Homo sapiens: one gene and its partners. The protein of the gene in region 1 purifies or fractionates together with the protein of each later gene. This does not show direct contact. Each region holds a gene or a part of one and is shown on either strand. Other genes may lie near its edges.

Region 1 (3,500 bases):
AGTGGAAGCCAATTAACAGACGATGTGGGCTCTCTTACGGAACTGAACAGTGTTTACATTGTTCAGGAGTACATGGAGACAGACTTGGCTAATGTGCTGGAGCAGGGCCCTTTACTGGAAGAGCATGCCAGGCTTTTCATGTATCAGCTGCTACGGGGGCTCAAGTATATTCACTCTGCAAATGTACTGCACAGAGATCTCAAACCAGCTAATCTTTTCATTAATACGGAAGACTTGGTGCTGAAGATAGGTGACTTTGGTCTTGCACGGATCATGGATCCTCATTATTCCCATAAGGTATGTATAGAAAGCCAGCTGAGACAGATCTTTAAACTGATACACCTAATCAGGAATAGGTACTTATATTTTCTTTGTATATTGTGGCAGAATTTTTAATCTTATTAAACTTTACATAGTGCCTTTTTTCTGAAACAAGTCTCTCTGTTTGAAATGAAGGTGGAGTGGGATAATTAAATACAAATTTCTAAAAATACATGGTTATTATAATGAAATTTTAAAGTGTATGGTTATTTATTATAAATGAAATTCTCCCTTAGTTATTTAAAAGTGGAATATACTCTTCTTTCTTTGGGACAGAATTGTGGTAAGAGGGGATGCTATTTCAACTTTAGGTCTTTTGTTTTTGAGACAGAGTCTCACTCTGTCACAAAGGGTAGAGTGCTGTGGCGCCATCTCGGCTCACTGCAACCTTCATCCCCTGGATTCAAGCGATTCTTGTACCTCAGCCTCCCAAGTAGCTGGGATTACAGGTGCGTGCCATCATGCCCAGCTAATTTTTTTGTATTTTTAGTAGACAGGGTTTCACCGTGTTGGCCAGGCTGGTCTTGAACTCCTAGCCTCCAGTGATCTGCCTGCGTCAGCCTCCCAAAATGCTAGGATTACAGGTGTGAGCCCCCATGCCCAGCCTTTTTTTTTTTTTTTTTAAGTTTTTAGTGACAAGATCTTGCTGTGTTGCTCAGGCTGGTGTCAAACTTCTGGGCTCAAGTGATCCTCTGGCCTCAGCCTCCTGAATAGCTGAGGCTAAAGGTGCATGCCAGCACACCCAAGCTTATGTCTTCTTTTGTCTCTTTGAGCCTGTACTATTCAGTTCTGCTTTGTTTAAACTAAATTTAGCTTGAAATCTAAATTCACATAAACAATTGGTAATAAGTATAGCCAAAAAGATCTCACAGCAACTTCGTCTTAGATAGCAAATTGCCTTCATACAAGAATTTAATATTTTTCAAGCTGAACCTTGGTCTTTTAGTTTGGAAATGAAATCTTATGTGGGACCCTGATGTTTAAATTAGAGAGGTGGAGCTGCTTTGGTTGTAAAGAACCCCTGGGAGCCCTGCTTTGTTAGCTTTCCACAGTACATGCCTAAGACAAATCTTCATACATGTTGTTTCACGTTAAGATTATTTTTATTTTTATTTATTTATTTTTTTGAGACTGAGTTGTGCTCTTGTCACCAAGGCTGGAGTGCAATAGTGTGATCTCAGCTCATTGCAACCTCCGCCTCCTGGGTTCAAGCAGTTCTCCTGCCTCAGCCTCCCAAGTAGCTGGGATTACAGGCGCCCGCCACCACGCCCAGCCCACATTAAGGTATTTTTACTTGGGCCAGGTACAGTGGCTCACACCTGTAATCTCAGCACTTTGGGAGGCTGAGGCAGGCGGATCACCTGAGGTCAGGAGTTTGAGACCAGCCTGACAACATGGTGAAACCCTGTCTCTCCTAAAAATACAAAATTAGCTGTGCCTGGTGGTGCATGTCTGTAATTCCAGCTACTCGGGAGGCTGAAGCAGGAGAATCCAGGAGGTGGAGGTTGCAAAGAGCTGAGATTGCGCCAATGCACTCCAGCCTGGGCAACAGGAGCAAAACTCCATTTCCAAACAAAAAAGATATTTTGTAGAAAATGAGTTCTAGGCTGGAAGCGCGGTGGCCCCTGCCTGTAATCTCAGCACTTTAGGAGGCCGGGGCAGGAGGATCACTTGAGGCCAGGAGTTTGAGACCAACCTGCGCAGTGGCTCCTGCCTGTAATCTCAGCACTTTAGGAGGCCGGGGCAGGAGGATCACTTGAGGCCAGGAGTTTGAGACCAACCTGGGCAACACAGACAACTTTTTTTTCCTAGAGAAAAAGAAAAAGAGATGAGTATTACACTGACGACGTCCACAGTGAAATATTGTGGGTAGAGCACTGTATCCACAGTGAAGTATTGTGGATAGAGCACTGAACTAATAAGACTTATACTATATAAAATTGACTCCATTTCTACATCCAACTAGCTATATGACTTGAAGCAGATCTCACTCTCTCAGTCATCACACCTATAAAATGGAGTTAATATCTACCATCACAATCTCTCAGGGTAGTTTTGAGGATGAAATAAGGCAATATATGTGTAAGGTTTTGTAAGGTGCTTTGTAATTGTAAAGTAGTTGAATAGGTGATGAATAGGATTTATAGTAGAGGTCATTAAGGAGGTAGACATTGGTTTATAAGTAGCACCTCTGGTGCTCTTCCCTACTGTTCTGACTTGAAGCATACTTGCTCTTTGATTATCTCAAGACTGAGTGTAAACCAGCTCGTCTTCTGAAAAATGCTTTGAATGTGTGGCCTAGAGTTATATAATTTTTTTTTTTTTTTTTTTTTTTTTAAAGACAGGGTCTTGCTCTTTGCTCACTGCAACCTCTGTCTCCTGCGCTTAAGTGATCCTCCCACCTCAGCCTCCCAAGTAACTGGGACTACAGGCGTGTGCCACCATGCCAGGCTAATTCTTGTATTTTTAGTAGAGGCAGAGTTTTACCATGTTGCCCAGGCTGGTCTCAAATTCCTGACCTCAAGTGATCCACCTACCTCGGCCTCCCAAAGTGCTGGGGTTAAAGATTAGGATTTTTTTTTTTTTTTTTTTGAGATGGAGTTTAGCTCTTGTTGCCCAGGGCGGAGTGCAGTGGCACAATCTCGGCTCACCGCAACCTCTACCTCCCGGGTTCGAGCGATTCTCCTGGCTCAGCCTCCCAAGTAGCTGGGTTTACAGGCATGCACCACCACACCTGGCTAATTTTGTATTTTTAGTAGAGATGGGGTTTCTCCGGTTGGTCAGACTGGTCTCGAACTCCCGACCTTGGGTGATCCGCCCACCTTGGTTTCCCAAAATGCTGGGATTACAGGCATGAGCCACCACGCCTGGCAAATTAAGGATTCTTTAATCAAGTTGTAAGTACTGTTCTTCAGCTAAAGTAAAAAAAGTATGTTTTTTGTTTCTTTTATAGGGTCATCTTTCTGAAGGATTGGTTACTAAATGGTACAGATCTCCACGTCTTTTACTTTCTCCTAATAATTATACTAAAGCCATTGACATGTGGGCTGCAGGCTGCATCTTTGCTGAAATGCTGACTGGTAAAACCCTTTTTGCAGGTTAGTATTTTGTGGGGGGAAAAATTTTCCCAAAGAGAAGTAATTTTGCATTTTATCTCTGAAGCAAGATTCATATAAGAT
Region 2 (3,500 bases), on another chromosome or scaffold:
CCTTTCTCGTCGATGGTCAGCACAGCCTTATGCACGGCCTGGAGGGGAGAGAAGCAGAGACACGTTGTAAGGCTGATCCCAGGCCTCGAGCAAGGCTCACGTGGACACCTCCCAGGAAGCGCTCACTCCCCCTGGACGGCCCTGGCCCTGCACATCCTCTCCCTCCCTGTCACATAGGCCTTGCTCCTCCTCAAGGCTTTGGCTGATGGGGCTGGCTCCCCTCTGTCCATCTTCCTGACAAGCGCCTCTCCCCCTGCTCAGGTGCACCCACAACTCAGAACAGGGAAGAGCATCGTCACTCCACGTCTGCCTCCAGGGCTCTCTCCTTTCTAGTACACGGCTTGAAGCTCCTTGAGGACACGGACCCTGGCAGTGACCTTCACAGTGCCCAGACCCCAAGATAATGCAGCCATTCATGGAACTGCAGTTGTTCATTGGTCGCCTTTAGTTTTCCAAAATAAGTGTCATCTTTAGCTGAAATCATTCATTAATTCAGACACCAAATCTCACAGATCGAAGGAGTCAGAAATTCCTTTGAAACAACTTAGCCCAAACCTTTCTGTGTCAGTATGGATAAATCAAGGCCCAATGTCTAGAAGGTCTTGGGCAAAGTTGAAATTCAGGGTCAGTGACACAACCTCAAGGGAGGCCCCGAAAGTGCCAGCTGCACAGCAGTCCCCTGCCTGGCTTTGCTGTTTGACCACGTCCCGTGTCAGTGAATCACGGGCATCTTCAGGAGCTCAGCCTGGGTCTTCATTTGTTTCCCTCGGCCCCTTCCTCAGCCTCAGGACAGAGCTGCAGCCCCCACACATTCTTCCCTACAGATACCAGGGTGCAACAAGGTCGTCAGGGTGATCTCACCTTGGAGAGCTTCAGGGGTGCCTCCTCTGTGACCCCGGAGAGGTCAGCCCCATTGCTGAAGACCTTAGTGATGCCCAGTTGACCCAGGACGCTCTTCAGATCATAGGTTCCAGTAATGGACAGTTTGGGTAAATGTAAGCTGGCAGACCTGTCGTGCAGAAAAGAAATTCAAGGCATGGCACAGCATTCCTCTTGTTCTTCTGGGACCCACCACAGTGCAAGTGTTTTCTTTTCTGATTATTTCTGCCACTTACTCCTGTGTCCTCCACCCACACTAAGATGGGAACTCGGCTTTGGTTTGTTCTACTTTTAGCTCTTCTACATTGAGTCAAAGAATGTTAACATCGAATGAATCACAAAAGCTTGAAATGCCACCTCCTCTGATATTCTAGGTGTCCTGGAAGCCTGTCTCATCTTGCCCTGTAGTGTTGGGTCACCTGGCCCCCAGCCTGTAACATCCCCAGGGCCCTACACCCAGAGAAACACGGGGCTGGTGGCAGTGCCCAGTGACAACCGTTTAGTGGATAAGAGAAGAGTGACCACACCAGGCTGAGTGCTCCTCTCTGGTTTTCCATGGGGAGACAATGCCACCCTGAGCAGGGTCTGGTGTGAGCGGGCAGCTTGGCTCTGGGCTCTCTGATCCGTTACCCTCTCAGCCTCTTTGTTCTTTCTCAACCCCTGGAGCAGAGACCTCAGGAGGTGCTGGCATGGAACAGAGAAATTCCAGCCTCGATTCCTATTATGAACCCGACACCTTTTGTATTTTCATCTTGGTTTTACAGTGTACAAAACGAACTAGATCAGCAGGGCATGGGCATAATCACGAATGCACACACATACACTAATGTGTGGCTCATGTTTAAGTATCACTTACTACAGGACACCCAATCTAACAGCACCGATAAAGTGACAGAGAAACGCAAGCCTTCTGCGAACATGGCCTGGCTGTTCCAATTCCGAACCTTGCTTTTCTGGGCCTTGCCACACAGGCTCTTCCCCCGTCCCCCCAGGGACATTCTACCCTTGAACTCCACACTCCACTGCTGCCTTTGCCAGGAAGCCCATCTGTTCCTTTTTGGTTCTGCCAGAACGTGTGGTGGTGCTGCTGTCCCTGCCCTGGGCACTGGATATTGGGAAGGGACAGTGTCCACACTGGAGTGGGAAGTCCCCAGGGACGAGACCTTTACCTCCTCACCCCTGGGTACTGTCCTCCTCATGGAGCATGGATGGCGCTGCCTGAACTCAGTGGTGGCCTCATTCTGGAAGCCAAGTTTATACAGAGTAGCAGTGACCCAGGGATGTGGGGTTCACCCTCCTCAGCCCTCTGGCCAGTCCTGATGGGCCTCAGTCCCAACATGGCTAAGAGGTGTGGGCAGCTTCTTGGTCACCCTCAGGTTGGGGAATCACCTTCTGTCTTCATTTTCCAGGAACTTGGTGATGATATCGTGGGTGAGTTCATTTTCCAGGTGCTGTAGTTTCCCCTCATCAGGCAGGAAGAAGATGGCGGTGGCATTGCCCAGGTATTTCATCAGCAGCACCCAGCTGGACAGCTTCTTACAGTGCTGGATGTTAAACATGCCTAAACGCTTCATCATAGGCACCTTCACGGTGGTCACCTGGTCCACGTGGAAGTCCTCTTCCTCGGTGTCCTTGACTTCAAAGGGTCTCTCCCATTTGCCTGGAGAGAGGGGAAGGTGGGCATCACCAGGGGTGAGTGAAGGTTTGGAAGAGTGTAGCAGAATAAAGAAACCATGAGTCCCCTCCCTGAGAAGCCCTGAGCCCCCTTGACGACACACATCCCTCGAGGCTCAGCTTCATCATCTGTAAAAGGTGCTGAAACTGACCATCCAAGCTGCCGAAAAAGATTGTGTGGGGATAATTCAAAACTAGAGGAAGATGCAGAATTTCTACATCGTGGCGATGTCAGGCTAAGAGATGCCATCGTGGCTGTGCATTTTTATTGGAATCATATGTTTATTTGAGGGTGTCTTGGATATTACAAATAAAATGTTGGAGCATCAGGCATATTTGGTACCTTCTGTCTAAGGCTCCCTGCCCCTTGTTAATTGGCAGCTCAGTTATTCATCCAGGGCAAACATTCTGCTTACTATTCCTGAGAGCTTTCCTCATCCTCTAGATTGGCAGGGGAAATGCAGATGCCTGAGCAGCCTCCCCTCTGCCATACCAACAGAGCTTCACCATCGAGGCATGCAGAGTGGACAGGGGCCTCAGGGACCCCTGATCCCAGCTTTCTCATTGGACAGAAGGAGGAGACTGGGGCTGGAGAGGGACCTGGGCCCCCACTAAGGCCACAGCAGAGCCAGGACTTTAGCTGTGCTGACTGCAGCCTGGCTGCTCTCCACTGCCCTCCTTTGCCTCAAGAGCAAGGGAGCCTCAGAGTGGAGGAAGCAGCCCCTGGCCTTGCCTCCCACCTCCCCTCCCCTATGCTGTTTTCCTGGGACAGTGGGAGCTGGCTTAGAATGCCCTGGGGCCCCCAGGACCCTGGCATTTTAACCCCTCAGGGGCAGGAAGGCAGCCTGAGATACAGAAGAGTCCATCACCTGCTGTATGCCACACACCATCCCCACAGTCTTTGTCATTTGTTTAATCCTAAAAAAACCTGACAGCAAGAATGGTAT
Region 3 (2,880 bases), on another chromosome or scaffold:
GGTCATATCTTGGCCAGGTGCGGTGGCTCACGCCTGTAATCCCAGCACTTTGGGAGGCCGAGGTGGGTGGATCATGAGTTGAGGAGATCAAGACCATCCTGGCCAACATGGTGAAACCCTGTCTCCACTAAAATAAAAAAAATTAGCTGGGTGTGGTGGCACGCACCTGTAGTCCCAGCTACTCAGGGGGCTGAGGCAGGGGAATCATTTGAATTTGGGAGGTGGAGCTTGCAGTGAGCCAAGATCATGCCACTGCGCTCCAGCCTGGGTGACAGAGTAAGACTCCGTCTCAGAAAAAAAAAAAAAAAGAAATGGTCACATCTTATGGGTTGTGGAAAGATCCTAGTCTCACTTTTTCCTGTATCTGGCAATACAGCAGGTTTTTGTTCTCTTTTGGTTCTCTTTTCACTTTGATTTTGATTAGGGACACTGTGTTTGTTGGGGTAAAAGGCTATGCATGTGAGGGGAGCTGGGATGAAGTCGCAATAAGCATGACCACATTCAGCTTAGAACCTTCTTTATTAAGGAAGGTCTTTCAGGCACTTTCATTAACAGGCACATATAAGCTTAGCAAGAGCACCTTTCAAAGTCACAGTTCCAATGGTTTTTGTAAGGTCAACCAGAGGCAGAGAACACAATCATGGTGGCTTACCGTCAAAATCATGACAAGTTGTCAACCTAATGCCTTCTGTCAAACATAACCACCACCCACTCTGCTTCTGTCCTGTGAGGAATGACGGGAAGTAGGGAGTCAAGACTTGATATTAATGTAGATCGCATGTGACACTTGCGTGGCCAGCAGACAAGGCCCCCCACCCATGCCCAGGCTTGGACAAAATGGTGGCTATGTTTTCTGTGCCAAACCTCCTCATCTCTGCCATGTCTAGCCTAGACCTTGAAGTGTCTGATCCTCCCCGGACATGGAGGAACCACTGGCCCAGCAGCAGCACCAACACTAGGCTGCACCACTGTGCGTGTTTTCCGGGGGTGCGACACTTCTCCTGAGGGTGACCCCAATGAGACCACACCCATGAAGGTGTGGCGCAGGTCGTAGTGCGCCCGGTGCAACTGGTGTCCTGGAGGAGCTGCCAGTAACACATGGGAGTCTGGGGGTGAGCCAGCTGGAGGGAGTCCAGGTGCGCCAAGTGGAGGGGACGGAGGTGCATCTGGGTCCACCACGGGTGTGGGGACTGCTTCATTGGCACCTTCTGGTTGGGGCTGTGAGCTCACGGGCTGGAAAAAGGACCATTTCCTTCAGTTAGTTTGCTTCCTCCTCCCAGGCAAGACAACCCACAGGCCCAGGTGGCACTGGCACCCAATTTCCTCACATTATACATTTTTATTTGCAAAGAGTCTAGCAAGAAAGGACCTACCCAAGTACAAGGGATTGTCATCAAGGTTACAAGGAGGGGTGACTGGCCTATGTTGGCCCCGGCCTCACTAGGATTGTCTTTGTGATGGTGGACTTACACGCATATGTCCAATGAGTAAAAGCACCCCACCTATGGCTCACCCTTGCCCAGCAGTGCCACCCTCTTTGTCATCTGAAGCTGCAGCCACTGGGAGCTAACAGGTAGATCTGGCCACCTGGTCTCTGCAACTCAGAAAACCACTCCCACCTCCCACAAATAAAAAGGTGGCTTTGTCAACTACACAGTAAGATGGTTCTTCCCTGTAGTCACTAGTTCGTGGGAGGGAAAGGCATAGCTAAAATATCCTTCCATTTGTTGATGATTCCGCATACCCCAGTGTTATTTCATACTGTGAGATTCAGAAGCACAGGAGAGCAAATGTCCTGTCATCACTACTGCACTGCATAAATGTGAAGGGGTCATTGTATTCTGAAGGTGTAGGCAAGAATATTCACGGAGCTGTTACCTGTGTTTGGAACACCATGCAGGTCACTGCAACCTCTGCCCCACCAAGCTTCTCACTGAGTGTTGCCTTACAAAAGCCATATTGCTGCCCACAGAGAAAGAGGATTTATTTTAACTAATTTCAAAAATGGATCCCCCCCAATTTCATTGACGCGCCAACCTTAAATTAGTTTGAAAAACCATTTTTCTTAAAGTTATAGTTTCTGCTTGTGGGAGGTATATGATTCTATATATAACATGGAAATACAGAAATACTTTGAGAGTGAGAGAGATTACCCATAATCCCTTTCTGGTGGTGGCCTAGAAAGAAGGACTGTTAACATTGATGCATTTCTTTCTTATTTTAAAATACTATTAAATATGATTTAAAAATTGAGATCATTGTGACTATACGATGTTGTATCCTGTGTGTTTTCACTTGCCATAATAGCATTTTCTCATATCATTCATTATTCCTTGAAAACACAATTTTTAGTGTCTGCACAATTTTCTATTTACTGATGTGCATGGATTATTCAATGACACCTTCCTGTTGGACATACAGATCTCTCTTTTTTGGTCTCTTTATATCCATAATAAATCATTTTTATAGATATATTCTGTCAAATGTCACTGATGAATTCTTTTTCTTTTTCTTTTTTTCTTGAGACAGAGTCTCGTTCTGTTGCCCAGGCTGGAGTGCAGTGGCACGATCTTAGTTTACTGCAACATCTGCCTCCTGGGTTCACACCATTCTCCTGCCTCAGCCTCCCGAGTAGCTGGGACTACAGGCGCTCACCACCAAGCCTGGCTAATTTTTTTGTATTTTTAGTAGAGACGGGGTTTCACCATGTTAGCCAGGATGGTCTCGATCTCCTGACCTCCCGATCCACCCGTCTTGGCCTCCCAAAGTGCTGGAATTACAGGCATGAGCCATCATGCCTGGCCACTGATGACTTCTTTAGACTAAAATCCTAGAAGTGTACATTATTGGCTCAAGGACTTGAAAGCTTTTGTATCAGAG
Region 4 (3,364 bases), about 11 Mb from region 1:
CTGAAGTTTGGGAAAGTCCTGGTGTCCTATTCAGCACTTTTCAAAACCAGTAATACCATCTAGATTAATAATAAAGTAAAACTTAATACACCATTCGTTTCCCAATGCCATGTAAATCCTTAGATGTGTTCTTTCTTTGAGACACAGCTTCACGCTGTCACCCAGGCTGAAGTGCAGTGGTGCGATTTTGGCTCACTGCAACCTCTGCCTCCTGGTTTCAAGCAATTCTTGTGCCTCAGCCTCCCAAGTAGCTGGGACTACAGGTGTACACCACCACGCCCAGCTAATTTTTGTATGTTTAGTAGAGACGGGGTTTCACTGTGTTGGCCAGGCTGGTCTCGAACTCCTGACTGCAAGTGATCTGCCTGCCTCAGCCTCCCAAACTGCTGGGATTATAGGTGTGAGCCACCGCGCCCAGCCCTTAGATGTGGTCTTTAAAGTATAATCCTTTTTTAAAAAATACTTCCAAGGGAATTTTCAGGGTTTGTTAGATTAGTCCTCATCATAGGTTTGATTCCTTCTCATCAAAAGCTGTCATCCCACTGTCTCTCCTTATAGCCAAGTATCCTAAACTGTGCAAGCTGAAGTGCCTTGGAGTACCTCAGGAAAAACACTTGACACTGACGCATCTTTTGTATAAACTACTAGTTCCAGGAAGTTCAGTTTCAATATGATATGGCACTACATTCCCTTTGATGGCATCCTATCCTTGTGAAGCTGGGTTTGGAGCCACTGCTATGACAAAAAGCACCATGCAAAAATCAATGTGGAAGAAATAAGGACAATGGTGTCCAATCTGATTTCAATTTTGAGAAACTGTATGGAGCCCAAAAGGCACACACATTCCATTAGTAACTGTGATGATTTAAGGATGAGATAAAAATTATCACATCAGGCTGGGCACAGTGGCTCACACCTGTAATCCCAGCACTTTGGTAGGCCAAGGCAGATCACCTGAGGCCAGGAGTTCCTTACAGCCTGGGCAACACAGCCAGAGCCCCATCTCTACAAAAAAATTAGGCGGGCGTGGTGGCACGTGCCTGAAGTCTCCGCTACTCAGGAGGCAGAGGTGGGAGGCTTGCTTGAGCCCAGGAGTTTGAGGTCACAATGAGCTATGACCCTCCAACCTGGGCAATAGAGCCAAGACACTGTCTCTATTTTTAAAAAAATCATCACATCACTTTTGCTCTTGTGTGTGTATAGTTTTTTTCAAATGGCTACTAGAGTTGTTAGAACATAAGTTAATAAATGTAACTGTTAGGTATTTCTTTTGGCCAAGGAATGGCCTGAAAAAAATTACTGAGATTCTAATGATGTCAGAAACTAAAAGTCTGAGAATCTCTGGGTCATCTACATATATATGTATATATATATATTTTTTTTTTCTTTTTTTTTTTGAGACGGAGTTTCGTGCTTGTTGCCCAGGCTAGAGTGCAATGGCACGATCTTGGCTCACCACAACCTCCACCTCCCAGGTTCAAGCGAATTCTCCTGCCTCAGCCTCCCGAGTTAGCTGAGATTACAGGCATGCACCACCACGCCCAGCTAATTTTGCATTTTTAGTAGAGACGGGGTTTTTCCATGTTGGTCAGGCTGGTCTTGAACTCCCGACCTCAGGTGATCCACCTGCCTCAGGCTCCCAAAGTGCTGGGATTACAGGTGTGAGCCACTGCGCCCAGCCTTCCTTATACAACTATATACACCCCAAACTTGCCATCATTCTTTAGTTCTTGTGCAACAGTTCTCTGATTTAAGCAGTATGTAAGAGGATCAGTTGCTCACATTAGAGGCCTACCTGTTGATAGGAAATGCCTGTTTTAAATACCTGCCACAAGGTAACAAATCAAATAGAAGCAGAGTAGAAACTGGACTATCTTCCTAGTCCAATGAGGAGTTGTATAGTGAGTGGATACACTCCCCGTCTCAGCTCCCCAGGATTACTTCATAAACTATGAAAATGACAATGAGGCAGGCACCAGAACCACTCAACACACATCTGTAGTCAGGAGTGCTCACCTATCTGGGCCAGAGAATTCAACACCATCTACTATCCCCAACCAGGACTTCTGCGGGTAAATCATGCCACTTCAGATTTCTCCTCAAATTTTCTACCCTAAAAAGGAGCTTCCAATAAATAACTCACACCCCAGCTAGCAGTTACTGTCCTAAATTATATAGTAGTATAGCAAGGCCACATAAATCCAAGGCATTACACTGTGATCAATATGTATTTTTTTGAAACTATTCTTTTTAATTATAGTTTAAGTTCTGGGGTACACGTGCAGGACGTGCAAAATATGTACTTCTTTAAGATGTTTCCACAGGTACAACAGCAGAACTACATTTAGAATTCACAAATAATAGACTTTACATCTGTAATCCTTTAATCCCATTCATAGCAATTTGGAAAAGGAATGAAAATAAAATATTTAGGGTTTCTACTCTTGAAAATGAGACACAAATTAGCCAGGCATGGTGGTGTGTGCCTATAATCCCAGCTACTTGGGAGGACAAGGCAAGAGAATTGCTTGGACCTGGGAGGCGGAGGTTGCAGTGAGCCGAGATCGCACCACTGCACTCCAGCTTGAGTGACAGAGCAGGACTCTCTCTCTCAAAAAAAAAAAAAAAGACACAAACTAATCAGAATAAATTTTAAAATGTTTAAACCAAATTCATATACACCATATATATAAATGTATGGCATACTCAAATATATTTTAAAAAAAGAAAAAGAGGGGATTTGCCCATAATCAAAACTTTATTGAAAAACTGACACCAAAATAGGAGATTACTGCTGTATACCTTACAAAACCAAATGTAATTACATTATCTTGGTAAATTAATTAGAATTATGGAATTTATGATAAGGCTTTCTGTGAGACAACACAAAATTAAAATTCAGGAAGCTGTTTGAATCATTAGTGTTGCTTTCTTCTAAATGAACACCCTGCAAAAGAATCATGAGAGTATATTAAACAAGTGCATTCTACCTTTGCTATAATTTTAATGACAAAAAGTACTTTTAAGTAAAATACTGAAGTTTTAAGAATATTGGATTAATACTCATATACAGATTATTTATCCTTTTATACCAGAAATTTGCTATAATACATCTATCATATCTGAGTTTACTCTGGTATGACTATAAGTGTCACTCCTGTTTCTCAAATGCTATAATGAAGTCTACTTAAGACCATGAGCCTGAATTCAACAGTGAAGACTGTTTCAAGCAAGCTGTCAGAAGATATACTCTTAATTTTTAGGAACTATTCTGAATACTTTTCTCAAGTAAATAATTTTGATTAGAGGTATTTTCAGACCTATTAGGAAAACTCTAGAACAGATAGACCCATTAAACCATCTG

The links. Proteins that work in one complex are often made in the same cells at the same time.
Region 2: the proteins of MAPK6 (region 1) and SERPINA1 purify together in Homo sapiens (affinity purification with mass spectrometry; 2 studies listed by BioGRID and IntAct, with this or other methods). This does not show direct contact.
Region 3: the proteins of MAPK6 (region 1) and AHSG purify together in Homo sapiens (affinity purification with mass spectrometry; 2 studies listed by BioGRID and IntAct, with this or other methods). This does not show direct contact.
Region 4: the proteins of MAPK6 (region 1) and RPS27L purify together in Homo sapiens (co-immunoprecipitation; 2 studies listed by BioGRID and IntAct, with this or other methods). This does not show direct contact.

Annotation. Positions count from the first base shown.
Region 1 is NC_000015.10:52,046,719-52,050,218, forward strand, and holds part of MAPK6 (mitogen-activated protein kinase 6), read left to right. Parts: coding exon 1-297; intron 298-3,274; coding exon 3,275-3,419; coding exon of another isoform or gene 3,420-3,424; intron 3,425-3,500. UniProt on the Homo sapiens protein: Atypical MAPK protein. Phosphorylates microtubule-associated protein 2 (MAP2) and MAPKAPK5.
Region 2 is NC_000014.9:94,378,603-94,382,102, forward strand, and holds part of SERPINA1 (alpha-1-antitrypsin precursor), read right to left. Parts: intron 2,540-3,500; coding exon 2,269-2,539; intron 1,010-2,268; coding exon 862-1,009; intron 39-861; coding exon 1-38.
Region 3 is NC_000003.12:186,618,939-186,621,818, reverse strand, and holds the end of AHSG (alpha-2-HS-glycoprotein isoform 2 preproprotein), read right to left. Parts: intron 1,963-2,880; coding exon 1,879-1,962; intron 1,234-1,878; coding exon 889-1,233; 3' UTR 501-888; downstream 1-500. UniProt on the Homo sapiens protein: Promotes endocytosis, possesses opsonic properties and influences the mineral phase of bone. Shows affinity for calcium and barium ions.
Region 4 is NC_000015.10:63,151,114-63,154,477, forward strand, and holds part of RPS27L (ribosomal protein eS27-like), read right to left. Parts: intron 2,948-3,364; coding exon 2,919-2,947; 3' UTR 1-2,918.